2 separate regions of the Homo sapiens genome follow, and region 1 is linked to region 2. Evidence: fine-mapped QTL for protein levels in blood plasma. Region 2 holds a variant in brackets. A gene starts in the other region. All regions are shown on their forward strands.

Evidence for each region. A credible set is the group of variants that fine-mapping cannot tell apart. PIP is the chance, under the fine-mapping model, that this variant and not a neighbour inherited with it causes the effect. The UK Biobank Pharma Proteomics Project read protein levels with antibody pairs (Olink). The fine-mapping took linkage between variants from a reference panel, not from the people measured, so its PIPs are less certain.
Region 1: it holds the start of DMP1, and the variant in region 2 is the best candidate, but not a certain one, in a credible set for the plasma level of the DMP1 protein (UK Biobank, PIP 0.58).

The regions. Positions count from the first base shown.
Region 1 is chr4:87,640,616-87,656,992 of GRCh38, forward strand. It overlaps DMP1 (dentin matrix acidic phosphoprotein 1), which reads left to right and starts at 9,665. Exons shown (of 6, transcript NM_004407.4): 1 at 9,665-9,769; 2 at 15,857-15,931. The coding sequence starts at 15,878. All of the region lies in intron 3 of DMP1-AS1 (DMP1 and DSPP antisense RNA 1), which reads right to left.
Region 2 is chr13:42,618,401-42,634,777 of GRCh38, forward strand. No RefSeq gene overlaps it. Among named protein-coding and RNA genes, the nearest start is that of TNFSF11, 52 kb to the left of the region's middle. The variant G/A (reference allele first, on the strand shown) is at 7,567.

The sequences.
Region 1 (16,377 bases), not on the chromosome of region 2:
CCAAATCATGGGTGAATTCCCATTCACAATTGCTATAAAGAGAATAAAATACCTAGGAATACAACTTACAAGGGATATGAAGGACCTCTTTAAGGGGAACTACAAACCACTGCTCAAGGAAGTAAGAGAAGACACAAACAAATGGAAAACATTCCATGCTTATGGATAGGAAGAATCAATATCATGAAAATGGCCATACTGCCCAAAGTAATTTATAGATTCAATGCTATTGCCATCAAGCTACTATTGACTTTCTTCACACAATTAGAAAAAAGCTACTTTAAATTTCATATGGGACCCAAAAAGAGCCAGTATAGCCAAGACAATCCTAGGCAAAAAGAACAAAGCTGGAGGCATCACACTACCTGACTTCAAACTATACTACAAGGCTACCGTAACCAACACAGCATGGTACTGGTATCAAAACAGATATATAGACCAATGGAACAGAACAGAGGCCTCAGAAATAACACCACACATCTGCAACCATTTGATCTTTGACAAACCTGACAAAAACAAGAAATGGGGAAAAGATTCCCTATTTAATAAATAGTGTTGGGAAAACTGGCTAGCCATATACAGAAAACAGAAACTGGACCCCTTCCTTACATCTTATACAAAAATTAACTCAAGATAATTAAAGACTTAAATGTAAGACCTAAAACCATAAAAACCCTAGAAGAAAACCAAGGCAATACCATTCAGGACATAGGCATGGGCAAAGACTTCATGACTAAAACACCAAAAACAATGGCAACAAAAGCTGAAATTGACAAATGGGATCTAATTAAAATAAAGAGCTTCTGTACAGCAAAAGAAACTATCATCAGAGTGAACATGCAACCTACAGAAAGGGAGAAAATTTTTGCAATCTATCCATCTGACAAAGGTCTAATATCCAGAATCTACAAGGAACTTAAACAAATTTACATGAAAAAAATAACCCCATCAAAAGTGAGCAAAGGATACGAACAGACACTTCTCAAAAGAAGACATTTATGTGGCCAGTAAACTTATGAAAAAAAGCTCATCATCACTCGTCATTAGAGAAATGCAAAACAAAACCACAATGAGATACCATCTCGTGCCAGTTAGAATGGCAATCATTAAAAAGTCAGAAAACAACAGATGCTGGAGAGGAAGTGGAGAAATAGGAATGCTTTTACACTGTTAGTGGGAGTGTAAATTAATTCAACCATTGTGGAGTACAGTGTGGCAATTCCTCAAGGATCCAGAACCAGAAATACCACTCGATCCAGCAATCCCGTTACTGGGTATATACCCAAAGGAGTATAAATCAATCTACTATAAAGACACATGCCCATGTATGTTTATTGCAGCACTGTTTACAATAGCAAAGACTTGGAACCAACCCAAATGCCCATCAATGATAGACTGGATAAAGAAAATATGGCACATATATACCACGGAATACTATCCAGCCATAAAAAAGAATGAGTTCATGTCCCCTTGCAGGGACATGGATGAAGCTGGAAACCTTCATCCATGTAACAAAGTAACACAGGAAGAGAAAACCAAACACTGCATACTCTCACCCAAAAGTGGGAGTTGAACAGTGAGAACACATGGACACAGCAATGGGAACATCACACACTGGGGCCTGTTGGGGGGTGGGGGCCAAAGGCAGGGATAGCATTAGGACAAACAGCTAATGCATGTGGGGCTTAAAATCCAGATGATGGGTTGCTGGGTGCCACAAACCACCATGGCACATGTATACCTATGTAACAAACCTGCACATTCTGCACATGTACCCCAGAACTTAAACTATAATAATAAAAAAGAAAAATAGAAAAACTAACTATTGGGAACTATGGTCAGTACCTAAGTGACGGAATCATTTGTACCCCAAACCTCAGCGTCATGCAATGTACCCATGTAACAAATTTGCACATACATCCCTGAATTGAAAATAAAAGTAGGAAAAAAAAGCTAAGTACGCTTTAATAACTGTCACAATACCATTATCATGCTAAAAATAAAAATAATTCTTTAAAATCATCAGATTTCATGTCAGTGTTTACATTTCCAATTGTTTTGTAATTGTCCTCTCTTTCAGCTTTTTTTTTTTGGAATTAGAAGACAAATAAAATTCACATAAGTGATTGCTGTGTCTCTCAGTTCTATTTTAATCTGTAGGTTTTACTTTCTTTCTTGCTCTCTTACTTGCAACTTATTTGTTGAAGAAACAAAGTTGTTTGTCCTGTAGATTTTCTCCGTCTGGATTTTACTGAATTTGCAGTTCGGTTTGGGTTTGCAAAATGATGATATTCTAATTTTATCATTCCTTCTTCATTTATGTCTATAAAGAAAAACTTCTCATTTGTTACCCAGTGGTATAATTTATAAAGGAAACATAGGATAAATGCTTGATTATTTTTATTTAGGTAAAGTTCAAAAATAATGAATTGGTTCTTTAATATTCTTAATGTTGGGAAATTTGTGTGTGTGTGTGTGTGTGTGTGTGTCTGTGCATTGTTTTGTTTTTGGTATCATTAAGAATGAATAAACTGGCCAGGTACGGTGGTTCACACTTGTAATCTCAACACTTTGGGAGGCTGAGGCAGGAGGACCACTTAAGCCCAGGAGTTCAAGACCAGCCCCCATCTCTACAAAAAATAAAAAATTAGCCAGGTGTGGTGGAGCACACCTGTAGCCCCAGGTACTCAGGAAGCTGAGGTGGGAGAATCACCTGAGCTCAGGAGGTCGAGGCTGCAGTAAGCTGTGATTGTGACACTGCACTCCAGCCTGGGCAATAGACCAAGATCCTGTCTCTAAAAAAGGCATAAACACAGGGATTTAAATATATTTTAAAACTTTTATTGTAAAATAACCTCAGATACAGAAAGCTCCACAAGATGAATCTGTAGCTTAGTGAGTTATTATAAGAAAGATATGCTTGAAATCACCACTCAGGTCGAGAGATAGAGGTCGAGAACTCACTCCGGAGTTCCTCTCTTGCTCTATCTCAATGAAACACCTTCTTCTAAGAAGTAACAACCATCCTGAATTTTATAGAAATCATTTCCTGGACTTTCTTTTTAAAGTATTATTACCCAAGTGTGTGACCTTGACACTATAATTTAGTCTTGCCCATTGAAAAAAGATTGCTGTGTATTTTAAGTCTCAAAATCTTTTAAACTATACTTCGTTTTTTTCTCTTTTTTTTCCTAATAATTTATCTGATGAAGAACCTGGGATGTTTGAATTGTCGAGTTTCCCACAGTCTAAATGTTACTGATTACATATGTAATGCAACTCAAAATCGTCCTGCTATTTGTATTTCCTGAAACTTGATGGCTGGATCCAGAAGTTTGATCACAATGAATTTGATCCCTTTAACAGACTATAGGTGATATTGTGTTCTTTCACCAGGAACCACATAGTCTGGTTGTCTTTCTTTTCATGAGCTAACTAGACATTGATTTGCAATGCCTGGATAAATTCACTGGGAGTTGTAAAATGGTGACTTATGTCATTTTCTATTTATTAATTGAGATGGAATCTCACACCGTCACCCGGGCTGGAGTGCAATGGCGTGTTCTCAGCTCACTGCAACCTCTGCCTCCCGGGTTCAAGCGATTCTCCTGCCTCAGCATCCCAAGTAGCTGGGATTACAGGCGCCTGCCACCATACCCAGCCACTTTTTTGAATTTTCAGTGGAGACGGGGTTTCACTATATTGGCCAGGCTGGTCTCAAACTCCTGACCTCGTGATCCGCCCGCCTCGGCCTTCCAAAGTGCTAGGATTACAGGTGTGAGCCATCATGCCTGGCTGTTTATTAGTTGGAATATGTATTAAGGTTCTCCAGAGAGACATGTACAGAGATATATATCAGGAGCCAACTCCAATAGGCCTCTACTGGCCAAAGATGGAACTATGTAATCTTTAAGATAGACAGTAATTGCAACAGACTGAAACCTATCAAATGATTTTAAATCTGTGAGTTCATAATAATATTACATAACCAACACCAAAACATACTCTAGTAACATAGACATATACAGATATACCCCTGTATATGTCTCTCTGGAGAACCCCGACTCTATATACATAGCTGTATACACAGCTATGCATATACACAGCTATGTATATAGAGTCAGGGGTTCTCCAGAGAGACATATACATAGGATATATATACACACACATAGGATAGGTATACACTATATATATATTGTATATACATAAGATATATATACACATATACATGTATATATCTATATATATTCATATATATTCCATGTGTATATATACATGTATGTATCTGTATATATCCATATATATTCCATGTGTATATTATAGGATATATACACACACACAGATATCCTATATATATAGGATATATTTATATACAGATACCCTATTTATATGTATTTATATATCCTATGTGTATTTATTTATATATTCTATTTATATAGGATATATGTGTGTATATACATCTGTGTATATATCCTATATAAATAAGATAAATAAATATATATAATAGGATATGTAAATATATATGTATAAATATGATATATATATCATATTAATTGATAAGGGACTTATTAGAGAAATTGGCTCATGTGATTATGGAGGCTGAGAAGTCCCACAGCATGCAGCCTGCAAGCTGGAGACCCCGTGATGAGGGTAGTGTGGCTCAGTCCAAGTCTGAAAGCCTCAGAACATGGGAAGCTGATGGTGTAACTCTCAGTCTGAGGCCCAAGGTCTGAGAACCTGGGTGTCAGGAGGAGTAGCCTGGTATAAATCCTGGAGCCTAAAGGCCATAGAAGCTGGAGTTGTGATGTCCAAGGGCAGGAGAAGAAGAATGTCTCAGCTCCAGGAGAGAGAGAGGAAATCATTTTTCTGCTTCCTTTTTTGTTCTATCGGGGTCTCCAGCAGACTGGATATTGCCTGTCCATACTAGGGGCAGATGCTTCTCACCAAGTCCACAGACTCACATGACAAGCTCCTCTAGAAACACCCTCACAGACATGCCCAGAAATAATGCTTTACCAGTTCTCTAGGTATTCTTTAATCCAGTCAAGTTGACACCTAAAATTAATCATCACACAATTCTTTTACAAAGATAAGCTTCCCCTCATGTCTAATTTGGTTTAGTTCATAGAGGTCTGCACAAATACCTCATTCTTTCCACTTACTTATAAGTTTTCAAGGTCATGAAGTGGCTTCCTGTTATCATCCCAAGGTGACCAATTAGTATTCTATTTCATTTTTGTAATATCATTATGAACTCAGAGATTTAAAATTATCTATTTTAAAGACTACATTGCTCCATCTTTGGCCAGTAGAGGCCTATTTGAGTTGGCTCCTGAGTCCTTTGACAGAATCTTAGTAATCTTTGATAGCTTTCCTGGAATCTGGGACGACAATATGTTCCAAACTCATCTTGCATATTTTGGGTCATAGACCTGGTATCAACCAATTTCCCAACAGGCCCCAGATGCTAGATCATAATCCGGGTTCTAGGGGTCCTAGCTATGACTGTGTTTTTAGGTCTCTATAGTGACAGAGCTAAGATATACATGTAGGATATGTGTGTGTGTGCGTGAGTGTGTCTTTATAATAATCCCTGAGTAAATTCTAATCTTTTCCATTTAAATTCAGGATTATAGGATTATGGAGTTCATTACTCTTTTTTTTTGAGACAGGGTCTCACTCTGTCACCCAGGCTGGAGTGCAGTGGTGTGATCATGGCTCACTGCAGCCTTGACTTCCTGGGCTCAAGCAATCCTCCTGTCTCAGCCTCCTGAGTAGCTGGGACTACAGGTGGGAGCCACCACGCCCAGCTAATTTTTTTGTACTGTTTGTAGAGATGAGGTTTCACCATGTTGCCCAAGCTGGTTTGGAACTCCTGGCTCAAGGTATCTGCTGGCCTCGGCCTCCCAAAGGGCTTTTGCTCTTTTGTATCAAATTTGTATCTCCTTTCTTTCACACTGAGAATCCTGATTCTCATGGATGCATTGGTTAAAGAAAGAGAATAATTCAAAATTACTAATATACTTTATTCCACATTATACATACAACATTCTCAGAATAACAATAATATTGCCATCACTAGTATAATTATTGAGAGCAGTTGAAATTATTTTTGCACATATGCTCTCCGTTCTCCCCACCTTTTTAAAAGCTGCACTATATCAATGCTAAGTATTTAGTTATTATATACCGTGCTGTCTCCCGTTTAGCCTCACTTAATTACATTTTTACAAGTAACTATATGTTTTATGTTTATCACCTGTTCTTACGACAATGCCTCTCTAGTTATTTTGGTTGACTGAAACTCTTTATCTAGTAGATTCCCCAGCAATGGTTTGAGAAAATAATATTCCTTGAATTCTTGCCTGTTGATAGCAGTTTGCTTTAGCCTCTCATACCTAAAAGTCAGTTTGCTGACTTATAAAATCCTTACTTCACATTTTCTTATCTTGAATGCATTAGGTATATTACCTTATTTTTCCTGGCATGAAGCATTACTGTCAAAGTCTTAATGATAATCTAATATCCCTTCCCTTATGAATCACTTGTTGCTTTTGCCTAGAAGCCCAAAGGACTTTACCTTCAAAGTTCAGTAATTTTATTAGAATATGTTTTGGTGTTGGTCATTTTGGGCCAATATTCTCAGGTACATGATATGCTCTTTAAATGAGAGTTTTTAATCTTCTTTTTTTAAATTCAGGGAAACTTCCTTCGATGATATGTTTGTTATTCGTTTGTTTTTTAGTACTTCTGCTGTTCTCTCACTTTTGTTATCTTCTTTAGGCCTCCTATAATCTACAATTTGGATGTTCTTTGCCAATCTTTAATATAATTCACTTTTTCCCAAATACTTTTTATTTATTTATTTTTTTAACTTTAAAATATTTCCCTCTTTTTTGCCTTCTACTTCCATTGAATAATTACCTATTATATTTATTCTCTTTTGTGTTCCCTCTAGATTAGTTTTCATTTCTAAAATAATTTTTTCTTTCATGCTAATATTTTCCTGAGTCCTGATATTTATTTTCTGAATTATTCTAGTTTCCATGTATTTTTTTCACCTATTGTGTCATTTTCTTGATACTTCTTTACTATTTTAAAAATAGAAGCTTAGGGTTTTAATTTATTATTTAATTATGTCTTTTAAGCATACTTTGTCTATCAGGTTGTTATTCTGCTCCTATGGGATTTAACCTTCATAGTTTTTTGCTGTTTGTTTTATATGAAAGTGGTTTTCCTGTACTTTTAGAAAGAAATGTGGTTCAGGGTAACTTTCAAACTTCACACGGCTCCCTCTTCTGTTGCTTTCGTGTTATGTTAAAAAAAAATAGCAGCTTTCTAAGATTTCTTGGATCCATTCCCCTCTCCCATATTTATCTGTGTCTTCTCTATTGTCTATATCCTGTGCAATTTTTATTCCACTCCCAGAAGTTTCTCCTGTATGTGAGTCTGTCTTAGAAAGCAGCTGTAGTGGCTTAGAATCCTTAGGGGCTAGACTGGTCTAGATCCTTCAGCTGTGCTATGAACCATTGGCACCCATCAGCAATAATTCTTGACTGCTTTGGGTTCTGCTGTTCTCATGTTCATCAGATTTCCTGCTGCTTTCCTCCGCTCACTCCTGCATAGACTCTCTAGGTCTTGTGGCAGTTGTGGACTTTGTCCTTAGTCACCTTGGAGTTAGTGGATATAACTTGTCATAAGGGGTGGTAACTAATCAAAAACTACCTCAACGTTTCCTCTGCTCCCTATACATGTGCATCCTGATCTGACACCAAAAGGTAGAGAGTATTTCTCCTTATGAATCTGAGATCTCCTTGTGATTGATTGACCAACAGAATATGGAAAAATGATATTCTAGGAACTCTTGGCCCCCAGCCTTCAGGTTGTGAGAAGGCCAAGCCAAGGAGAGGCCATGTAAAGAACTAAAGTGCTCAGAATTACAGCTCCAGCTGAGCTCTCAGGTAACAACTATGAAAGTGGCATCTGAAATGTTCTGCCCCAACTGAGTCTTCAGATGACTACAATGCTAGCTGTGAGAGATAAGAAAATGGTAGTTGTTTTAAAATGCAAAGTATTGAAGTGGTTTTTGATATAGCAATAGATAACAAAAATGCCTAGTTTTATTGTAAATGTTATCCACAGTTTTCAATTTTGTTATCTAATTGCTCCTCTGTTTTTATGTAGGGATTTGAAGAGAGTCTAAAATAATGTCTTGTAATGCAATCTGCCCAAATCTGCCCAGAATCCAATTCTGTCATAAGATTATAAGGTTCTTCTAGCATAGATCTCAGTTAAGACCCATGAAACCATCAGAGAGTGTAATTCAGAACCAGAGCAAATCACAGGGAATTTATAGCTTCCCCATATGGACTTTGGCTTTCTAATCAACCCTAAATGAAAATAGACATCTCTTTCCTCATTGTCTGCACCACCCTCCCCCGCATATTATAGTTCACACTAAATATGTTGATAATCCATATATCTGACATTAGTTGCCTGAATAAATTGGGCACTCTAATTTTCTAGATCCATGTTAGGAGCATCAGCTCAATTTTTTTTTTAACAATTAAAGCATTTTTTTAAAAGTTACAGTGAGTTATGCAGATACTGTAATCAAGTTAATAGTTTGGCTAATTTTCAAGCCAATCCACTCAGTCATTCAAAGAGTACTGAGTGATTATTAAGAACTGTTCTAGGTATCCAGGCACTGATTATAGATCAGTAGACAAGCAAACATCCCTACTCTTAAGGAAATTAAGGTCCAGCAGCTGATATTCTCTAAATTCTTGTTCAGTGGCCATCCTGCCGTCACTTGAACACGCTCCTGGGAAATTGCCAAACCCATTTCCAGCTCCCTACAACTTTTAGTACGCTTCCTCGAAAATGTTTTGGTAAATATCATTTTATCCATTTCATTACATTTTCAGTGGTGGCACAGAGTCCCTTCAAGATTAGTTTCCTTGGATGCTACCCAGCTAGTATTCCCCTTAATCCAATTCTGATTTCAAAGAATCATTAAAATGTGGCAAACAGGGAATGATTAAGTGTTAAGTGTTAGATCTAAATTTCTTGAATAACACAATAGCTACTTAAGGGGGGTACTTTAGTGGACGCTTTATTAGATTAGTAGGAGTTTGGGAACTTTGTGTGTATATGGGGGTGGGGAGATGAGAGGAAAAGGAGGTGAGTAGTAGAGGTTGTTAAAAGAGGAAAAAGGAAGAAATAAAAGCCCATATTCTCAAAACCAACAATTTAAGGAACTCTAGTATTTTAGTAGCTTTCTCCATGTACAACCTGGAAATGTACATTAACAGGAAACTTTCTACCCACCCCTGCCTCCGCCTTTCCCATCCTTGGGTCTGCTGGGATCTGTCGGTGGGTAGAAGACATTGTCATTGTTCATAAGACTGCCTGAATGTGAATGACATATATTTAGAAATCAAAATAAAGTTTTGGGAAGATCTTCAATTTAATGGAAACTAGTCTAGTCATTTGGGAACCACAAGAGCTTTTTAGGGAAAATGTGCCTCTGCCAGCTGGAGGAAGTGTGGGTGTACCGGGGTCCCGGTGACACCTTGTGATGTCAGTCACCCCCAGCCTGAGGTTGATTGGCTATGAAGAGCTGCAGCAGAGTTTAAATTCCTGCACCATCAGAGAAGTGTCCAGAATATCAACACAAGAGTGGCTTCATTGGGCATAGATTTCCTCTTTGAGAACATCAACCTGATTTTTGAGACTTTTTGAAAAAATTCTTTGTGAACTACGGAGGGTAAGTCATTTTCATCATTTAATTTTTTAAAATGACTTTTGCTGGTTGTTTGGAAAATATTAAATATGTATACATGTTTGAGGCATTATACCATGTAGAGAGAGATGGGAGAGCTGCGCTTTGGGTAAAAACAGTTCCTATTTTTGTGCCTGTTGTTTATGCCACAGTAAATAATGATATGAAAATGACATGTTAAGACAATACAGCCAGGTGTTTTTCTTGGTAATGCTTTAATTAGATCTCTGCATGACACTTCTAAAAGGGATAGTTTATAGAACAGGAGGCAGATGGAAGGTCATTTTGAAATTTAGTTTTAATTAGCAAAACGTATAAAACTTTTACAGTGTGTTTCATGAATAAGGGAATGTTTGCAACCTACAAGATTGTGAAAAAAAAGCTAAACTTATTGAATGGCAGGACTTTAAAAAGAATTTTTTTTAAATTAAAATGTTATTCATCTAGAGAGCATCTAGTAACATTTATTATGAACTGCATAAGTAACTAAAAGATGATTAAACTACTGAAATAACTGAGGGTGTGATAATTATGTTTTTTGTATTCATGTTAGCATGATGCCTTGAATACAGTTAGAATTCAATAAATGTTGAATATAATTATATTTTAAAATATTGCATTTTAAAACATATATTTTAAAATGTCCATATGTATTTTTATTTACTGTATTTAGTGCACTTCTTCATCTGTGTGACGTTTAGAAGAGTCCATGTGTTTTAGCAACTTGTCTTCCTTAAGAGCAGTAACTTGTGGTTAACCATACTTTCTGTTTAACTGAGGCTTGACTATCTTATTTTAACTTTGTTGTTTAAAAATGCGAACAAACTATTTTCTAAAGGGTATTAGTCCACTTACCTACCTGAAAATGGTGATGTAAAACAATGTGCCTCAGATGCTTAGAGGCCTTCCAAATCTATATTTAATTTTGGGGGCACCTCAGAGGTATATTCCTGTGATTAAAAGCATATAATATTGGATTCATCGTAATTGACCTGAAGACACATACAATAGGAAGAATTGGATTTTTTTTTGGTTTGTTTGTTTCTCTGGATTCCTGGTAGAGTTCATATCCTGGCCAAGTTTGATTCTATTTTCAAAGAGTAATAAGAAAACAAATTCTAGCAGGTTCTAGTTAGTTGGATTCTGGTTAATTTTATTATTATAAAACCAACTTATTTTATTATTATTGTTTATTATTATTAAAGTTTCCTGCTAATGTACATTTACAGGTTGTACATGGAGAAAGCTACCAAAATATTAGAGTTTCTTAAATTGTTGGTTTTGAGAATATGGGCTAGAAAAGTGCCTAACACATTGCATGTTCATAAATATTTACTGACTGCTAATGAATGAATGTATTGTTCAGTTGTGTTCTTGAAGATAACAATACTAAGACAAATAAAGCAAATTAATATGATGAATTGTTTTCCAAAAGAAAAAAGAGTCTATGACTTTTCAAACCTTTATTTTCTTCTTTTGGCCTATTTCCTTCATTTTGGTTTACATAAAAGAAGATATATATTTTACAAATGTATCTTAACCTTGAGAAAATGCTAGAACAAATTTCCTTACTTAAGAGCCGAAAGAAGTTTTGGCTACACACCTGAAATCTTGACTTTAGTTTCCCTCTCCACATTCTAAACATTTGGCTCTTTTCAACTCTATGAAAACAATTCACAGGGGCAGAAATTCTCTAATACACCGCCTTCCAAATGGATGGAACTCAAGTTGTTTATTTCCTTTTGTTACGTCATCTCACTGTAGAATGACAGCATGTAGAATGTAGAAATAACATTAACCAATCACTGAAGAAGAACTCAAAGTTCTGGACTTTTAATTGCAGGCTTGTAGCTGTGGTTCACATTTATTATTCAGAATATGGCTACTGCCTATCTGCTTCTACTCTTTTTTGAATAGTAGCCAAAATGTTTATAAAAGTTTGGAGCTCTTGTTTGGAAATGCACTTCACAAAATTATAATTATTTTTATCAGAAATACCAAATGCAAACCTAACAAGGGGTTTAAGATCTGATTTTCTTTAATGCTTACAGTTGGACTATATTTTTTGGGTGGCAACATCAGCTCTCTCAGAACTCTAGAGTGTCTTTTATTTTAGTTTACTAGACTTGCATCTGGGAAATTATTGCTTTAGGTCAGGATGCTAACGAGTATTTCTAGAATCCTGAGCAAGTTAGGGCATCTTTCTTGTGTTTTAGAATCTTCCATCCCTAAGAAACTTGAGCACTTGGGGCATGCACTTCTTTGTGAGAAAACACAACGTTCATTGGTTTAGAATAAATGCACAATGGCATCCCCAGTTTTCTAATTATTTAGATTAGAGAAGCTAAAGAAAATACAAGAGAATTCAATAGTCATTGACCTTCTGTCAAGGCTCTAACATTTGCTAGCTTTCAGAGAATCATGAAATTATAACCCTATTCAAATTTCACTTTGAAAATTAAAATGATGAGGTAACTTTCATTTGATCTGTGAAACTGAAAGCATTGAAAGGGTTATTTTGAGAATATCATATTTGAGAAAATTTTGCTTTCCTGAAGAAATAAACCTAACACATTTTTTAAAAAGTTTTGATTGTGGTATCTAAAGAGAAGTAACATCTATTAAATTAAGCTTGATTTTGGTATAGTTAAGCATTTTCATATGTTTTTCTCTGTTGATATTAATTGAAGGATTTTTAAAAGAAATTAAGATAGTATCAAACATAAGGACTGATATACACTATGCGAATTAGAATAAAGAAAGTAGCACAAATTAAGAATAACTATGCTGAGGAGAGATAATGCCCATAATATACATGAGAGGTTGTTTGACCATTTGAGTTGTGTGAAAGCAGAAATGAGAAGCCTGTTCAGGCTCCTTATCTTAGGATTTCTATTATTTTATTGAATACATTAAAAATAAGATTAGATGACTTCTTGAGCCCAATGTTTCAGACAATATTCAGCATATTCAGGCATTATCGAGTGATATATATATATATATATATATATATATATATATATATATATATATACTTTTTTTTTGAGATAGGGTCTTGCTCTGTCACCCAAACAGGTGTGGAGTGGCACGATCATGGCTCAGTGCAGCTTCAACCTCCCTGGCTCAAAGAATTCTCCCCACTCAGCCTCCTGAGTAGCTGGGACTACAGGCACGTGCCACCAAGCCTGGTTAATTATGATATTTTTAATTCTTAGATCAAGTGTTAAAATCTCTTGTGGAACTTTAAAAACAAACCTATTCCTGTGCCCACCCAAGTGAATGGATTTATTGCCCTGGGATGGGATTTGTGCATTGGCATTTTTAAAACTCTTCCCAGTTGATAGTAATATATATTTAGGGTTGAGAATCTTTGGCTTTTAACTCCTATCATTATTTTAGGGGCCAAGGGAAAACTTCCCCCTCACCCTCTGAAGGTTTGCTGAAAATCAACTGACAAAATATAGATTAATAGGAGAAAAGGAATACAAAATTATTTTTATGTGACACAGGAGCCTTCAGAACGAAGACCTAAAGATACAGGAGAAACTGTCCATCTTTATGCTTATGTCCAACAAAACATGGGCAGCCATGTAGAAATATGATTGGACAAAAAGGTTTTGACCTTATACTAGTAGACCAAGTGGGGTGGCCCAGCAAAGCCTGTCCAGATTCTTCTTGGCCTCTCCGTGCAGCATTTCTTCCTTCTTGATATGGGACAGGACCTTCTCTGCAATGCGGGTCTTATGACATACAATTAAACTAGGGGGGTCAGAGAATTTCTTTAAGGCCAGTTGTTACACAGAAAGACAGGGGGACTTAGGGTAATATTTTCAGGTTTTATTGCTGGCTTTGGGGAAAAGAGGTTCTGGTTTCTATAACCTGCCTTTGGGAAAGAGGGATTCTAGTTTCTATGGTTAGTCTCAGGGGAGAATGAGGGGCCAGAGATAGGAGGGCAGGGGAAGGTCAGAGAGAAGCTTTTGCTTCTGAGGCTGCTTCTGAGGCCTTCATTATGGAGTATTGTTTTCTGAGTTCCTATACCAGTAAACTATTGCAAATCAAAGAAAATGACTGAGGTGAGTCTCAATTATTTTTGGAGACTTATCTTGCCAAAATTGAGGATGCACCTGGGAAAAATGAACACAAAACTACCAGAAACATCTATGGTCCATGTTTGTTTACAAAGAGTCCGAGGACTTCAGTATTTAAAGGGGAAAGAACAGGCAATAGGAGAAAGGAAGGACAGATAAAAGAGGCAAGTGGTTGCATTCCTTTGAGTCTTTGTTTAGTGCTCACTGAGCCCACATTTTATATGTGAAAGGAGAGGGTAGAGGAATAGTCAATTATGCATTTGTCTCATGCTCAGTGAATCTGCATTTCTACATAAGATAAAGTAAACATAGACTAGAGGAAGCTGTCAGACATGCATCTGTCTCAGGTGAGAAGAGGAATGACTTTTAGTTCTGTCCTTTGTCCTGAACTTATGAAGGTAAGCTGTTAATTTACATTGTGAGGGTGAAATTCAACCAGACTGTTTTGGGGTAAAGATCTCAGGGCCCACAGGAATTTCCCTGTGAGAAAATTGTGAGGGAGGTATGTAGCCTTTTATCCTTGTAGCTATCTTTTTAAGAACAAAATGGGAGGCAGGTTTGAGTGACCCAGTTCCTAGGTTGACTTTCCCTTTGACTTAGTGAGTTTGGGGTCCCAAGATTTTATTTTCCTTTCACAGTATACATTTAACATTTAAAGAAATGAAACAAATCGACAAACGTGAAATAAACTTGCAGGATTATTTGTGAAATGTATGGAAGTTCATCAGACAAGTATGCTAGGGCAGCTACCAGGGCTTACTAGTGCAGGGTAAATTGCGTTCCTTAAACCATTTCAATAAATTTTTACTTTAGCATCTAGTACTTCTATTTTTAAATACAAAACAAAGTGTTTTCCAAAGCAACAGCTCTTGAAGTGTGAAATGAAGTTACCCTCCAGAAAAATAGTTTGATTTGGCGTGTTTCTCTCAGCATGATTTACAAGTGTATCCCAAACCTGTAATCTTCCCCAAATCCTTCAGTACTGTGAATGACAGCAAAAATAATTTAGCATAATTATGTATAATGTATGACTAAACGTGTCACAGTAGATATTAAGAGCTTTCTGAAGTTGTAATATGAAGCCTACTCTAGCGCATCTCTTGCAGATCACAAAAAAAGCAAAAAAAAATCTATTTTGTGTAGACATTATTATGCAGTCATAAATGTGACTTAGAAGCCATTGTGTGTGTGTGTGTGTATGTGTATGTGTGTGTTTGTGTGTGTGTGAAAACAAATGCCCACCACCTATCACTGGTGTCAATAAGTGTAGTTTTTTAGGGAGAATACATTTGCTAGGGTGCTCTGCCATACCAAGCTGCATAATTATTGTAAAAGGGAATGGATAGAAATTTCTATATTCCTCTTTCTTTACTTTTTCGTCAATTTATCATACTTTATGTGTTAGCGTTTGTACATCTCCTCATTGAAACATTTTCAATTTATTTCTTAGGAGTGAGGTTTTTAAAAACCACTTTGTTGAGTTATAATCTATACACCACATACTTCACTAATTTGAAGTGTATAGCTCAGTGGTTTTCAGTATGTTCACAGAGTTGTGCAACCTTCACTACAATACATGGAACAGTTTCATCACCTCCAAAAGAAATCCTGTACCCATTAGCTGTCACCCCTCAACCTCCCATCTGCACAAGCTCTGGGCAACCACTAGTCTACTTTTTGTCTCTGTAGATTTGCCTATTGTGGACATTTCATGTAAATAGAATCATTCCAATGTGGCCTTTTTATCTGGCTTCTTTCACTTAGCATAGTGTTCTCAAGTTTCCTCTACTCTGCAGCACATGTCAGTACTTCATTCCTCTTTATGGTTGAATAATATTCTGTTTTATAGATACAGTAAATTTTATTTATCCATTCATCAGTTCATGGACATTTGGATGAATTTTTAGTAGGAAGAAACTGTTAAAAAGTTGAAACTACTTTATTCCTTTAACATGGAGAGAAACATCTATGTCCTTCATTCCAGGTAGAGGTATCACACCCAACTATGAAGATCAGCATCCTGCTCATGTTCCTTTGGGGATTATCCTGTGCTCTCCCAGTAAGTATTAGGGTAGGGATATATGAAAAAACCCTTTCATACTTAAAACTCCACAATTTTGATTGGCTATGAACCAAGATGGCTGTGTATGTTCCAGTCCAGTAAAAATAGTAGTTTCTTAGCATGCTGTTTTCTTAAGAAATATCATTCAAGGTGTTTTTTATTCTGTTCAGTTGCCATTCACATAGATATCATTCATACTTTTCTTCCCTATAAGCAGTGCTTCTTAAAGTGTCATCCTGGAACCACCAGCATCAGCATCAACTAGGACCTTGTTAGAAATCCAAATTCTTGGACCCTACCTCAGAGCTGCTAAGCCAGACTCTTTAGGGATAGGAAACAGAAATCAGTGTTTTAACAAGGCCTCCCAGTGATTCTGATGCAGCCTAAAATTTGACTATCCCTACTCCTATGTATGAAATGTGTTAATAACTATTGCTTTAGAA
Region 2 (16,377 bases):
GAGATTTTTGCTGTCATTCAATGCCCCAGATGTATCAGAAGGCAGGTCCTGAACCACGTGGGGCAGACCAACGTAGTCTACTTTAAATAAATATTTTGAGGCTAGGCGTGGTGGCTTATGCCTGTAATCTCAGCACTTTGGTAGGCAGAGCCAGGCGGATCACTTGAGGTGAGGAGTTTGAGACCAGCCTGGCCAACATGATGAAATCCCATCTCTACTAAAAATACAAAAAAAAAATTAGCCAGGCATGATGGCACACGCCTGTAATCCCAGCTATTCAGGAGGCTGAGGTGGCAGAATTGCTTGAACCGGGGTGGCGAAGGTTGCAGTGAGCCAAGATTGCACCACTGCACTCCGGCCTGGGTGACAGAGTGAGAACTTGTCTCAAAATAAATAAAATAAATAAATAAATATTTTAAAATATCTGTTGAAGATTTGTTTAGGAGAGAGAAGAACAATGTATATGAAAGGACAGAGAAGAGTGCTGCTGCATTGCTGGTGGAAGCAGGAAGGCTCCTTTTGGCTGCCCTGAACAGTTCACATCTGGCCCAGCCTTGCATAGCTCACTCAGTGAAAGGACTCCTGAAGTCCATCAGAATCTCCCTTAATATCTGAGCAGCTGCCTTTGTTAGAGGAAACTGTTGTGGGAGATCGGTATATGTCAACCAAAATATGAAGAGTTGAAGGCAATTAAGAAGCAGATGCAGGAAAGCTCTCTGCCCTCCCTCTATTTGCTTAAAAGCAGGGCAGATATTTACAAAAACAAAACGTATCCAGCCCTGCTCCCTACTCTACCAGGGAGAACAAAGGTTGGCCACTGAAGACAGCTTTAGACCCTCATCAGCCTGGAAATAATAGCAGAGGAATCTACATTAACAAATGGGACTAACTAGCCTTCACCTTTCATTTATTTCCCTTCCCTCCATGTGGCTGCCTGTAGAGACTCAAATTCTTTTTTTTTTCCTTTATCTTGTCACTTCTCTAAAAATGTTCTCTTATTTGCTGATGTTATATAAGCTGGAATTCAAACCACCTCTTTGAGAACTACTCCTTCTCTGGGTGTCTGCCACTTACATATGATATCTACGTGTTAATACACTTGTTTGTTTTTCTCTTGTTAATCTGTCTTTGTAGCAGGGGTCCACTCCAACTAAGAACTTATGGGGGTTATTATTTTCCTCCACAGTTCCCCTTTAGGAGCCTGACTCCTACAGGTGAACCCAGGGTCCAAAAATGTATTTCTTTCTGCATAGAGAAGTAAATATATTCTCCCCATTCCCGTCTTCTTAAATTTCCAGTGCCTCTGGCACCAGCCACTCTGGTCCTTTCAATTTGGCTTTGTAAAAGGTAGCACTGTAGTCACCAGTCTTTCCATAAACAATAACTTCCCTCTCATCACCAAAAAGGATTTATAGACTATTTTAGATCCAATTGTCAAAAATTATCAATTGTCTTATTAAAGCATTTTTGTGTGTTTTTTGTTTTGTTTTGTTTTGTTTTTTTGAGATGGAGTCTTGCTCTGTCGCCCAGGCTGGAGTGCAGCGGTGTGATCTCGGCTCACTGCAACCTCTGCCTCACTGGTTCAAGCGATTCTCGTGCTTCAGCGTCTGGAGTAGCTGGGATTACAGGTACCTGCCACAGCATGCCTGGCTAATTTTTGTTATTTTTAGTAGAGATGGGGTTTCACCATGTTGGCCAGCTGGTCTCGAACTCCTGACCTCAAGTGATCCACCCACCTTGGCCTTCCAAAGTGCTGGGATTACAGGCATGAGCCACCATGCAATGCCAGGCCCTGTGTGTGTGTGTGTGTGTGTGTGTGTGTGTGTGTGTGTGTGTGTCTTTTAAACCAGGATCAATGCTTAAGAAATATCTACATTTGTTTCTTTTCAAAGATCCATGACAGCATATGTCTCATGGTTAAAAACTGTGAACTGGGCAGTAGCGGGACATGCTCCTTTTCTCCTCAGGTTAGCCAAAAAGTACCAAGAATCTCCTTTGTGCTGAGCATTATGCTAGGAGCTGACCTCATACATAATCTCTTTTAACCCTCGCTATTTTCTACGCAGTGACCGTCATCCCAGTTTACGGACTCATAAATGTTAAGTGACATCTGGACTGTGTGTGTGTGTGTTTGGGATCTGAATGTAAAACCACAGGGCTTTTTTTTCTTCACTCTGCTGTCACAGACAATGTGACTGATAGTTCCTTCTACCTGAGCTGTCCTCCTACTTCTCACCTGGCCAGATTCCCACCATCATTCAAATCTCTGTCTTAGACCCACCTCTCCATGAATCCATCAGTGATCTATTTCTTCTGTGAACTCCTATTGTTCTTTATGTTTTAATCACACAATCTAAGACTTGATTATCTCTTATCTTGGACCACCCACTAATTGTTTCCCGAGTCTTATCTCATCTTTCTAGAGGCGTGTGAGCTGCTTTAGCACGGGGGGAGTGTGTTCTCTGTGCTTCTCTTGTGTTCCCAAAGGTGCTGAGTGCATAATGGGGGCAGAGAAGAGCACCATAGAGGCCTCTTGAATACATGACTGATGAATTCACCTGTGTCCTCTGTCAATTGTGAGCATCCACAGCCCAGCTTTTGTCATGTGGCACTTAAGGGCCCTTCAAATTCTCACCCCAATTTCTTGCCAGAACCACATAGAATTAGGTGAGTGGAGGGGGTTAGGATGGAGACAAAGGGGCCGTTTATCATTGTTGGTTTTTTCAGGTGTAGTGCCTTTACATGTAATCCCATGGCAGTGAAGTATGACAGAGTGAAAAGATGAGTGAATTTGATGTTTGGAGATAAGGGGTCTAGTCCTGTCTCTTGAATAATCATTTCATACCTTTGATAAGGCTCTTAAACTTCCTATAACTCTACTTATTTATTCATAAAATTGAAATATTAATAGCCACATCACCTATCTTGCAGAGTTGTTGAGAGTTCAAGTAAAACAATAGATGCGCAAACATATCATAAAGAATAAAATGTAATCGGAATTGAATAGAGCCCTGTTCTCAAAATCAGTAAGACCAGTTAGTTACACAGTTTGACCCAGTGAACATCTCACAGCTTTCCTGAGCTGCCTTCCCACTCTGGCTCCTTCATACCCCCCTAAACCAGCAATCATTTCCAGGGATTTTGGTGCCACCTTCTGAACCAGAAATCATCTTCGGGAAAACTTGAGGGGTCAGTGGGGTCAATTCATGCCCTGGTCTCTATGGTAACCCAGATATTCAAATTAATTCTACCTTGATCTGACATTTGTAATGATTTTTTTTTCTCTTGTTGAGCTCTGGTTTTACATTCTAGAGAATGAGTTTGTCTCTTCAAACCTTTCTCTCTTCTAAAGCAGAAGAGAAAGGAGGAAGGCAGGAAGGCAGTACCCTTGAATCACAGTTGCAATGGATCACTTTCTCCTTGCTGCAGGCAAAATAAAAATGTCTTCCAGGTAGAAATGAATTAGGGTGTCAGGGCCAAATCCATCTTCTTCTTCCTCTTCACTGAGCACTTCTGTACTTTCCTCTCTGCCTGGTGGAGCTGATTCATCTGCAGTGAGCCTCATGGTGAAAATGAGGGGAGTCCAAGAAGACAGTGGCCTCTCCAATTCTTCTCCCTCATTTAAAAAAAATCCAAATCATTAAAGACCAGCTCCATCTTTTCATTGTGTCTCTTAACCTATACTCTTCAGAGCCTAGAGTGTCTAACATTTGGTAAGGACTCAATATATTATCAAACAAAATTTAAAACAAACTTTAAAAAAATAAAGACTTACATTATATGGAAAAGACATTTGCACATGCATGTGTGTAGCAGCGCAATTTGAAATTGCAAAAATATGGAACAAATCTACGTGCCCATCAACCAACGAGTGGATAGGGAAAATGTGGCATATATACACCATGGAATATGACTCAGCCATAAAGAGGAATGAAATAATGGCATTCACAGCAACTTGGATGGAGCTGGAGGCCATTATTCTAAGTGAAGTAACTTAGGAATGAAAAACCAAATATTGTATCTTCTCACTTATAAGTGGGAGCTAAGCAATGAGGATGCAAAGGCATAAGAATGATATAATGAACTTTGGGGACCTGGGGGGAAGGGTGGGAGGGGAGGTGAGGGATAAAAGGCTACATATTGGGTGCAGTACACTGCGCAGGTGATGGGTGCACCAAAATCTCAGAAATCACCACAAAAAATCTTTTCCATGCAACCAGAAACCACCTGTTTCCCAAAAATTATTGAAATCAAAAAAATAAAATAAAATAAAACAAAAATAAACAGACTTAAAAGAACATTTCCCAGAAATGGCAGAAAGAATATTCCCCAATGAAAGGGATGGTTCACTAACGAATAGCATTTCCAACAGCAAGGACTATCTAGAGAACATAGATTGTGTGTGCGTGTGTGTGTGTATGTATGTGTCCATGTGTATTTGAGGAGTGTGACTTACTATGCTTTTATTTATTAATATAAGTCACAGACAACTTAACTCAAAGTGGCTTAAAGAAATATAATCAGGAAATTTGTTTTCTCACATAGTAAGCAACCCAGCAGTAGATCAGGCTACCGGTGTGGTATGTCAGGGCTCCAGCTCCGCTTATTATGGCCTTTGCTTTCTTCCCTTTTGTGTGTTGGCTTCACCCTCATGATGGTAACCAAATGACCCCAGCAGTTCCAGCCATCAAATCAGTTACAGCAAAGTTCAGAGGAAGAAGGGAACTATCCCTTTATATCACTTTCTAAGGATCAGGAAAACATTTCCTAAAGCACCCCAGGTAATATCTTCCTACTTCCGACTGGCCAGAGATGGACCTAGGGTCAAGGGTCCATTCTTAATCCTGTGTAGTGCCAGGTATGAAAGTTCTGAGGGTTCCAAGTATAGGGCAAGATGCCACCTCTTAAATTCCCAATTCCAAGCAAAGAGTCCCAATGCTTGGTGACCAGTCTGGATTTCAAACATATCCCCGACTTGGGCAGATGGCAGGCAGACAGTTTGTAGTCTCTTGCCCTACAAATCTTTCAACTAGTTTGAGTTTGATGGTGGAGACAGGAGCATGGGTAGAAAGTTCTTTGCATTCTGAGTCCCACAGAGAGATCTAGAGTATGGGACTCCAGTTCCAGGCACCTTGAAGATTCCATCACAGTGGGAGTTGCAGACAGCCTTTTTTAGTCTACTACTTTTTCAGTGAGTAACCACTAAATAAGACATAAAAACACCCACACATGCTTCTACCAAAGGCAAGCATAAGTCATTAGGCTCATATAGTATAAATTCGTTAGGAAGAGGAGGAACACATTACCAGCTGTTCAGACAATTTGCAAGACTCTCTTTTACCATAGAGCAAGAAAGGTACTGGCTTTCAGAACAATTGACATGTGTCCTGTTTTGCAGAGCAGAGTTAACTCTTTTTCTTCAGTCCCTCTTCTTTCAAATAGTGTAATTTTTGGTCTCCTGGGAACAATAAACTGGCCTATTGCTGATTTATATAAAAGTAATGGTGGCTTCCTTAGCTAATAAAAGAACCCATGGAAGCTTTGCCAAGTAGAAGACTGATGAAATCCCGGGTGGGGAATAGCTGTCACTCCAGCAGGGTTTGGTGAAGTGAGAACGGAGATGGTGGGGGTTCTGGCTGGTTTCCCTCTTCCAGCAAGGGCTGCATGCCTTGAATTGGGACAGATCAATTCTTCTGAGAGCTGGCACCTTCTTGCTCTTTATGTGTGATCCCACTGTGGTCTAAGATTTTTTTGGCAGTGGTCCCAGGTTCTCCATTCTCCTTTTCACTTCCCTTCTCCCCTTTCCATAATGAGTTGATGCCAGAACAAGGGACTGTGATGGAAGAAAAAATGTTAGGAATGCTCAGCAAACTTCCAAGTCTCATGATGGAAATGGTCTTCCTGGTTCAGGTACCTGTTTTCTGCCTGGTGCTCTTTCTAGGTATTAGAGATTAATACTCCGATCTCAAAGATGCAAAGCTTTGGCAGGTTTGCAACTCATAACTCTTGGGGTGTTTGAAATTTCTGTCTGGAGGAAAGGAGCATGAGGGATTTCTGTAGGACATTTGTTGGTACTATCCTAGACTAAGAAGTTTTGCAGAAATTTAGGCCTTCATTTGTTTAGCATCTGCTAGTGCCAGACAGGCAGTGGGGACAAAAAGATGAATGACAGGCCTCCTGACTTCTAGGACCTTTGAGGAGGAGACTGCAAATTTCCATGTAAGGTGAAAAGTGTCATAATATAAACACAGTGGACCCCTCATCCATGGGGTATGCGGTCCAAGACCCTCACTGGTTGCCTGAAACCATGGATAGTACCTAACCCTACATATTCTATGTTTTTTCTCCTATACATACATGCATATGATAAAGTTCAATTTATAAATTAGGCACAGTAAGAAATTAACAATAATAACTAATAATAAAATACAACAGTTATGCCAGTATACTGCAATGAAAGTTAAGTAAGTGTGGTCTCTCTCTCTCTCTCAAAATATCTTATTGTGCTGTACTCAACTGTTTTCAGGCCGGGTTAACCGAAACCACAGATAAGGGGGTACAGCTGGATACCCCTTAGGCTTTTGGAACACAAAAGAGAGGCACAGTGTCCATCCCAGAAAGTTCAGAGAGGGCTTCCAGGAGGAGATAACAGCTGAGCCAATTTTCGTGAAGTTTGGGTAGAAGTTAAGCAGGTGAAGGACTGGAGAGTGAAGGAGTGGAGAGTAGAACTTAATTGGGATGGGTGAGAAGCAAAATGAAAGACAATGAAGCCACTGGGCAATTGAAGAGAGGAAAGGAACCCCAGTAAAGATAGAGCAGAAAAGGGGGTATGGAGCTAGGGATACTGGGCTGAGGACCAACAGCAAATTCACAGTGTCTTTCAAGATCCTCCCTGTCACACCAGGGAGCAGTTCTCCATGCTCCTTAACAGTCAAAAGTGAAGTCAACAGAAACATTATCCTTCAGAATGGCTTTCTTTGAACATCAGTAGTATAACTTGCCCTCATTTGTTTGGCAAAGGGCAGAGGGGTATGCTCCTGTGGAAACTGAGAGTAAGGTCTGAAAGGGGCAGGTCACACCATGGAGCTGTCACACCTGAGGCCTTTGGGAATCAGCCCCTCCATGGCCTGTTTCTTTTCCTACACTACACAGTGAGACGCTCTCCCTAGGAGCTCAGCTCAGTGGATGCCTACTTCTGCTTTTGGTAGTAACTACTAGGCTTCATTTACATTCAGTTCTTTTTTCCTTTCCAATACATGGATAGATTACACATCTACTCCACCCTGCAACTGGATGGGGTCACAATGCTGGTTTTAGAGCATGTGTTGTAGGCTTGGTGACGTGTGTCACATCTGGGCCAGAGCATTTAATTCCTAGTGCAAAAACCTCTAGTGGTCTCTTCCCTTTGCTACCAAAATGAGTAGCTTTCCATATGGCATAGCTCCCAACATCTTGGGTCCTGGAGTGAGCACGAAGTAAGGCAGAGTCTCTCCCTGATCCCAATGGACATGGAATGTGAGCAAGAAATCCCTTCTTGGTTTTTTGAATTTGGAGTTGCTTGTTGGC[G/A]CAGCCTAATTGAGCCTACCCTGAAAGATACAGAGGGCTACCTTTTCCCTTGGACTTAAGACATTGCTTTCCTTTATGGCTGTTTAGTAATAAGAAGCACAACTGGCCTGGGCTTGACCAGTGTCTTTGAGGGGCCCCCAGTGGTGAAAAGAATAGGTTTGGCAATTCTCATAAACCAGCGTCTGGGCAGAAGTCAAAGGAGAGCAGAGGGAGCTATATGCTTAGCCTATGGAGAAGCATATTGATAAGGACTTTATGCCGCTTTTGTGTACAGAACGCAAACTGGAAGATTTCTCTGCGGTAAAACCCCATTGAACACTTCTGCACTCACAGCTGTGTGACCCTCATCTGAACCACCCCCATCCCATGCTTACTTGGCTTACATGTAATGCTTTGGGGCTGAATTTCCAGCACATGTCTATTTTTCTAGAATCAAAAATTCCCTTTAAATTTTCTGCTCTAGCCAATATACTGAGGATCTGGGATGAAAATGTTCCATTCTTTTAACATTAGCCCTTTTGGGCCTGATGGAGCCTAATCAAGGCTTGTTTTTCCATATTTACTTGGCTGCACAAAACATGAGATTGATAACCATTTTGGGTTCCTAGATGACTTGACAACTGCTTTGGATCAGCTGCACAACCAGCACAAATAACTGCAGGAATTGGTCATTAAGATGACTGAGAAACATGTTTCAACTCGACAAGTCCATTTCACGTCAGCAAGTTGATGTGGCCAAGCCCTAGTCTGCTCTTCTTACCCAACTTTCACCTTGAGGAGGCTCTCAGCCCTCCTCCATAGCATCCAGCAGGATAATTTTCTAAAACACAGTTACAGACCTGTCACTCACTTGTCCCAAAGCCTCATGTCATTTCTGAATGCCAACAAATTAAGTGCAAAACATCTACTGGCATCAACTTCTTTATATGAGCTTTTTTCCTGAACTCTCTGTCCCCTGGCTTCTATGTGCTGTGCCCCAGTCTCACCAAAATACCACCTGCTGCCTCATTAATCGTGCATGCCCTTCCACACCTGTAATTGTGCATTCTGATCCAGGCAGCCTTTCCCCTCTCTATCTGGTTATCTGCTCCTCATCCACGAGGTACACTCAAACATCCTCTTTAACATTCCCTCCCCTTCCTTCCCCTTCTTTTTTTGTCTTGTGTGTTTTTTTTTTTTTTTTTTTTTTTGAGACAGGGTATCACTCTGTCATTCAGACTGGAGTATAGTTACTGGATCAGCTCACTATAACCTCAAACTCTGGGCTTAAGCAATCCTCCCACTTCAGCTTCTCAAGTAGCTGGGATGAACACACCACTGTGCCCAGTTAATTTATTTTACTTTTCATTTTTTGTAGAGATGGGTTTGTAGCCCCAGTAACTAGGGGCTATCCAAGAAATATTTAATAAGAGAAGGAGGGAGGGAGAGAGTCATCATTTTCAGTGGGGGCTATACTAGTCGTGAGGGGAGGGGGAATGAGGAGAGGGATGAGCTGTGGGTGACACTCCCAGCCCCCTAAGCATACTCCAGTGTTCCATCAGACTTCAGTTGTAAAACACAAATTAAAATATAAAATTACGAAAAACCTCCAGTGCCAAATGTGGGGGGCCTTCTGCATGCAGGGCCCTGTGTGACTGCACAGGTCTCAGGCTTGTGCTGTCCTCCAACAAGTGGCAGAGTTGGGCGCTCCCAGGCAAGTGGGCTTGGCAGAGGAGGTGGTGTTGGCTTAGCCCCTGATGTTGTCTAAAGGCAAGATCAAAACACGTATTTCAACATGTAAAACCCCAGTTCAGCTTCTTGCCTCAAGTCTACCTATTCCATCTCCTCTGCCTTCCCTTTAGAGAAACAGCAATGGTCTTTCTTTGTGGTACTGGTTTTTGCTGACCATCACCTATGGGAGGAGGGGTTTGACAGTGATGTTCTGCAGACTGAAGTGGTTATGGTAAGTGAAAATCAACACAAATAAATCCCGCTTTCTTCACTGGGGTCACATGCTGGCTTTGGGGAGACGTTTGCATCCATCTATATTTTTTACTGAGGCTTACAAAGTCACATTATTCACATGTCACTCTTAGACATGCATTTTATTAGACATAGACCCTCTAAAAACTATCACTCTTCAGCCAGCTTTAACACCTCTGCTGCTGCACAATTGCTGCTAACTTCACCTTCAGGCAGTGTCTTGTTTAGACAGGTCCATTTTTTTTTTTTTTTTACTGGGTTTATTCCTAAAAATGCCTCCTGAAAATGAATTGCTATAGAAGTGGGTTTCATTTCTTCAGATATATATATATTATTATATATAATATAAAAGCACGAATAAATTGCATCTTGCATAATACTCCATGGCTGACTGTAAGTGTTCCTCATGCATTTCAAATTGTATGAACATTGCCTAAGAGTCCATTTCTGATGCATTACATACTTTATCTAAAATTATAGTGCTGGCTGTAGGAAATATTAATTAAACTCTTAATTAGCTCATGGAATTTTTGTTAATTAATAGAACGAATTGGATGATGTAAATCTCCTTTAAAAATTATTCAGTCAAAAAGCATCAAGTTCCTTAAAAAGTCCAAGTCCTTTCACAGAGAAATTCTATCCTAGAGAAATCAGCATTGGTGATAAACCTCTATGTAAAAAGATGTATACCGAAGTGTTATTTGCAATTGCCAAGCACAGAAAACAACTTAGGTGTGGCACATAGGAATGGTTATGTAAGTGATGGCATTAGAAAGACAGTCTAGTCTAATGGTTAAGGGTGGGCTCTGAAGTCAGCTAGGTCTGAGTTTGAAAGCCAGCTCTTTCACTTACTAATTTTCTGACCTGGGGGATAAGTTAGTATTCTCATCCATATATTATTAATTACCTATTGCGAAATAAAATACTACCCCACAACTCGGAGGCCTTAAACAACAATCGTTCATTGTCATCGCTCACACAGGTGCATGTATGCTGGACTTGGCTGGGCAGCTTTGCTTCTCACTGCTCCACATCGATTGTCCTCTTCTCTTAACCTAGTGGGATAGACAGAGCATGTTCTTGACATGGTGATAGGAGAGCCACAAGAGTGAAAAGTGAAAACACATAAGACAATGTCACATTGTAATTTCCACCTCATTCTATTGATGAAAGCAAGTCACACTGGCCAAACCCAAGTCAAGGAGTGAAAAACAAAATTGCACAGTAAAAGTCATGATCCTATAGCACCTTGGCACCATTGACCTTTTGGGTTCTTCATTGTAATACTGTCCTGTGTATTGTAGGGTGTTTGGCAGCAACCCTGTGTCCCTTTACACACTGGATGTCAGTAGCACTCCAACAGTTGGAACAACCAAAAATATCTCCAAACATTGTCAAATGTGCCCTGGAGAGTGGACAGGAGAATCGGTTCTTGGCTCTACAAAAGGGTGAAGAATTAGGTACAATAATAAAATCTGCCACTGTGGGCTATAATATTATCGACCTTATATTGTGTTTGGAATAATTGAATTCAATTGCTCTTATTTTAATGAATGTTTAATAAATGTTAGTTTTATTATAGCCATATAATGTAGTTATTAAAATTAGATTCTTGAAGGATTTTTAATATCATGGGAAAATGTGTAGGTATGCTTTTAAGTAAAAAAGAAAGGATTTGAAACAATATATACACCAAAAAACAAAGTTTATAAAAATAAGGTACAGATACAATAAGCTATTAAAAGGTGATTTTCTAGTTTGGTCTAATTAGTATAATTCTCATTGTCTTTATGTTTTTCTGTTTTTTCCCCCAAATTTCTCACAATGAGACTGTATTTATTTCTTTAATTAGAAAACAAGTTTCACACAAAAATATACACAGCATAAAATATGTTCAGGATGCTCCAGGCTGGCTCTTTTCTCCCCCTCCACCACTCAAATATTTCCTTAAAGCAAGAAGAACCTTTAAAAAATCATTCTATTACCTTGATTCTTTAGAGAAATATCGTTATAGGTGGCCAATAAGTAAATTTGTTGTTGATGATTTTATTTCTTGCAGTAAATAGCACTTACAAAGTTGAGAATATATTAAATTGGATTTTAAAGAGTTTTACAATATAAAAATATTAAGTATTGGAGATTATGTGAGGATGGAGCAGATTTACATACTGCAGCCAGAATTACAAATTGCTACAATCTTTCTATAAGGCATTTGGCTTCCTTTAAAGTGTTTGTACACAACATTTCCATTTCTAAGTCTCTATCTCTCTCAAGTAAATAATCCAGAGATGTATGTAAAAACTGCTAAATAAAAATGTTCACTAAAGCATTATATACTGCTGCCAAAATTGGGAAACAATGTTCAATGACAGAGGAATATGATGAAATATCCTACAGCCAATAAAAATTTTGTTTGAAAAATCATTTAAGGATATTGGGAAATACTCATCATTCAACAGTGTGGAAGAGTTGCTCCTGCTATCTATTTAGGCATCTTGGATTCAGTAGTAGACTCCCACTCCCACCAAGTTTTAGCAAGGCACAGGTTTCCCTGCCTGCCTTGAAATTGAGATGAGACCAGAAATGACATGAGTATCTTGAGTCACATCCATCAAAGAAAGCAACTGCCTGCCCCCTCCTTCCTCTCCACTCACCCTAGGCCAGACTGCAGATGCGGTACTTGTGAGCAAGCTTGAATAAGGCATCTAGGCTGGTACCCTAGCAGGTGAAGAAGCAACAAGACCACAGAGACCTGAGTTCCTGCATGGCCTCATAAACAGAGATGCTTTCACATCCCCAACTCCTTATCTTGTGAGAGAAAAAAATCAATCTATCTTCCAATACTGTGTTTTGGGGCCTTGTGTAAGAGTAGGTTAGCCTGAATCATGGCTAAACATAAATTGGTACCAGAAATAGTACCCTGCAGGGGAAACAAAAATGCAAACTATATCTTTCTTGTGTAACAATTGTGTTATAGGCAGCAAGGAGACAGATATTGCAGGCTGCAAAGCTGGTGACCTCTCTCAAACCACAGCAAAGCATTTGGTAAAACTGGTCCTATGATAACTTTGAAGGCAGGTTATCTATTTACCAAGCCTGGAGCTCTGGGGGAAACAGTGAAACAAAATTGGAATGTTGGTTTCTGCTGGCTGCTGCTCCTTGCTGCTTTTAGTAGACAGAGATGAATAGAGAGATGAAGTTTGGCAAGAATGTGTCAGTTTGCAAGTAGAGGTGGAAGGAAATACAACTCTGATAAGGATGTCTCCTGTGCTTGGGACTACAGTGTGAATTGACTGTCCAGTAATTTAAGCTTCATGGAGCTGGAAAATTGGACTGCTTCAGCACCATAAGCAGAAAGAGATAATACTGTGTCTATGAGCCTTCCTCCAGGGCCCCTTCATGGAACCATGGGAGCCAATCCAATAGCAAATATAAAATTAAACATATCGTTGTCTCACCCAAGCCTGTTATTTCAGATGGCCTCAAAGTTGCTACTGAGTTAGAAAGAAAATAGTCCAAGGACAGAGCTGAGGAAATAAATGAGAGAAACTTAAGATTTATGCAGACAAGACCTTTGGCTATCCTTCCATGTTCATGGAAATGACTGAAAGCAAACAGTCCAGAAAACTGCTAAGAATTTTGAAAGAATTATGGGATCAAAGAAACCACAAACCTGGCCTGCAAAAGCTGTAATTTTCTGATCCCTAAGGCAACCCCCAGGAAGGAAAGTTGTCCATCCCCAAGGAAGGCATGTTTTCCCACACTCACTTTAGTTGTGGCCACAGAAGTGAATGGACAAGCAGAGTCTCAAAGAGGTCAGTGGACAAAGGAGTTTCTGCCAGAGGGGAGAACTTGTGTCTACTGACCAAGGAATTTTCTGCATTGGCTGAGACTTGTCACAATTTCACTTGTCACAATTTCTTCCCAATAAGATTGCATTATTATTTAGGACCATAATGACTCTGTTTCCCATTCACCTTTTCTCCAAACGGGAGTTTTTATCGCTGCTCTCCTGTTTGACTCCATTATTGAACCATTAAGTATGAGGAAGGTGCCAGGAAACATGCTTATTAGTCTATAAGTCCTCAGATCTCACCACCTTCAGTCCTGCTGGAGAGGACTTCATGTCACCTAGAAATCTTGGACTTTGAGTGGGAGTAGTAACTGGATAGTTACTACTCCGCCTCCCTTGGAGGAGAAGTATGTTCTATGTGGTTAGGAAAGCACACTGAGTGATTGGGTGACTTGAGGCAGAGGCTGACAAATGTCCTCAGTATCTATTTTCCCCTTTTATTTAGAAATAAGCTCTTTCATGCAGGGGTTTTGCAAGATATATGGCTGTGCAATGGGCAACCAACTTTTCCCAGGCTCCTTTATAACTAGGTGTATTTACAACATGTTGTTAAGTTTTGGCAAATGGAAGTGGTCCAAAAAGAAGGGAGAAACTACCAGGGCATTTTCTTAAAAGAGGAAGCTCCTTGCCTCCCATTTTCTTTTCATCTCCTTCTCTCTTTGGTGTGATACCATGTGGTACTGCTGGGTCTGCTTCAACCATAGGGAGTAGCGCAACGCTCCGGGGAGTGTAGAGCAAGACGGTATAGACCTGGGTCTCTGGGCTAATGCAGGAGCAGAGCTGCCCAGGACCTCTTTCTCCCTACATGAGAGAGAAGAAAGCTTATATCTTATTGGAACCACTATATTCTTGTGTGTCTTTGTAATAGACACTTATCCCAAAACTCAATCTACCCTAATAAAGCAATTGTTTAGGTAAGAAAAAGAAACCAAGATGTGCATTATGACCTAAATTTTCTTCAAAAGAAGTACATGTATATAGAAAAAACCTAAAAAGCTAAGTATCAAGACATTTATTTCTGGGTAGTAATATTACCAATCCTTTGTTATTTCTTGGTGATGTTTTTCCATATTCTCCATTTTTTCACTTTGCATAGATATTATTTTTATAATTAGACAGGCAACAGTATATGCTATTATTAAAATACAAATAACCACAGATCCCTCATTTCTGTCTCTCATGAGAGACAGAACTATTAATATTTTTTCCAACTGCCACAGTTTTTTCAAAGCTAGGAGCATTCGACCACATAAATACCCTGAGGAAGCTCTAAGTGCTTTGTCTATCTTTTCGTGCCAGAAGACCTGTTCCAACACTTGGTTGATATCTATCAAAGTGCTTCATGTTTCGTGAAAAAACTAGAAAAATAATTATCAGCTGATGACCATAGCCTGTAGAAGGGCCCTTCTACAGCTGCTACAGACAGCCTGGGCTGACAGAGTGGGCGGTGAATTACAAGGAGGACAAATGTCCTGGTGAGGAACCCGCCTGCATTTGCTGTCTCTCCAGAAGCTTCTGGCAAGCATGCTTCTCATAGTTTGCACATGGTTGTTATGATTGTTTTTAAAAAACATTTTTATGATCTGCTCAAAACCTTCTTTCTCTCTCCCTACATCCAACCATCTAATAGGTAAATTGCTTCCAGATTAAATCATCTCCTTACTGCACTCCTTCTCTCTGTCCTTGTTGCCATGATTCTACTGTTAGCCACTTTCATCTCTCATTGATGACTGCAGCAGCAGCCACCCTCCCTGCCTCTCATCCTTCTTCCTTTTAATAAAATCTCTTCCCTGCAATCAGAGTTGCCCTTTAAAAAGGCATATCTGATTTTGTCACTGTTCACCCTAATGCTTCTCTATCACTTTTATGATGGAGTCTGATGACTCACAGACCCTCCATGATCCAACTAGTGTTTACATCTCCAGTCTCCTCTCCAGACATTGTTCACCAAACTCTCAACCAGCAAGCACCACCCCCTCCACCCCAGAACAAACATCCTATCTGCTACTCAGTGATTTAACTACAATGAATGCTTTCTTCTTTATCAATAGACTTTAATTTTTAGAGTAAGTTTATAGAAAAATTGACCAGAGAACAGAGAGAGTTCCCATATATCTCCTACCCCTCACTCCAACTTTCTTTATTATTAACACCTTGCATTAGTGCGGTACATTTGTTACAATTGATGGGCCAATATTGATACATTATTATTAATTAAAGCCCTTAGTTTACATTAAGCTTCACTGTTTGTGTTGTACGTTTTATGGGTTTTGACAAATGTATCATGACATGTATCCACCATCACAGTAGTGTACAGAATAGATTCACTGCCCTAAAAATCCCCTATTCCCTATCTGTGCATGGCTTCCTCTGTCCTCCCTCCCCACCTGCCTGATAACTATTGATCTTCTACTTACTCTATGGTTTTGACTTTTCCAGAAATGTCATATGGTTGAAATAATATAGTATGCAGGCTTTTCAGACCACTCCTCTTGCTTGGTAACATGCATTTATGGTTCTTCTATGTCTATTCATGGCTTGGTAGCTTGTTTCTTTTTATTGCTGAATAATAACCAGTGTGTGGATGTACCTCAATGTGTTTATTCATCTCCTGTTGAGGGACACCTTGGGTCCTTTTAGTTGTTGGTGATCGTGAATAAAGGTGCTATAAACATTCATGAGCAGTTTTCTGTGTAGACATATTTCAACCACGGAGTGTCTTTTAATTCCTCAAATGTCCCTTAGTTGGTTCCCTTATCTCTGGACCTCCAAGCATACCGTCCCAATGTCCTAGAATGTGCTTCCATCTTTGTTTATCTAGATAACTACTACTCACTTATCAAGTACAGCCTAGAAATTACTTTCCCAGGAAGTCTTTTATAATCCCAGCAAACTGACACTTCCAGTACTTCCAGTAGGTTAGTTATATTTTCTAGGTGCTTCTGCAGCATTCTCTTCTATACCCTAGCATAGCAGATATCATCCGAAATTGAGGA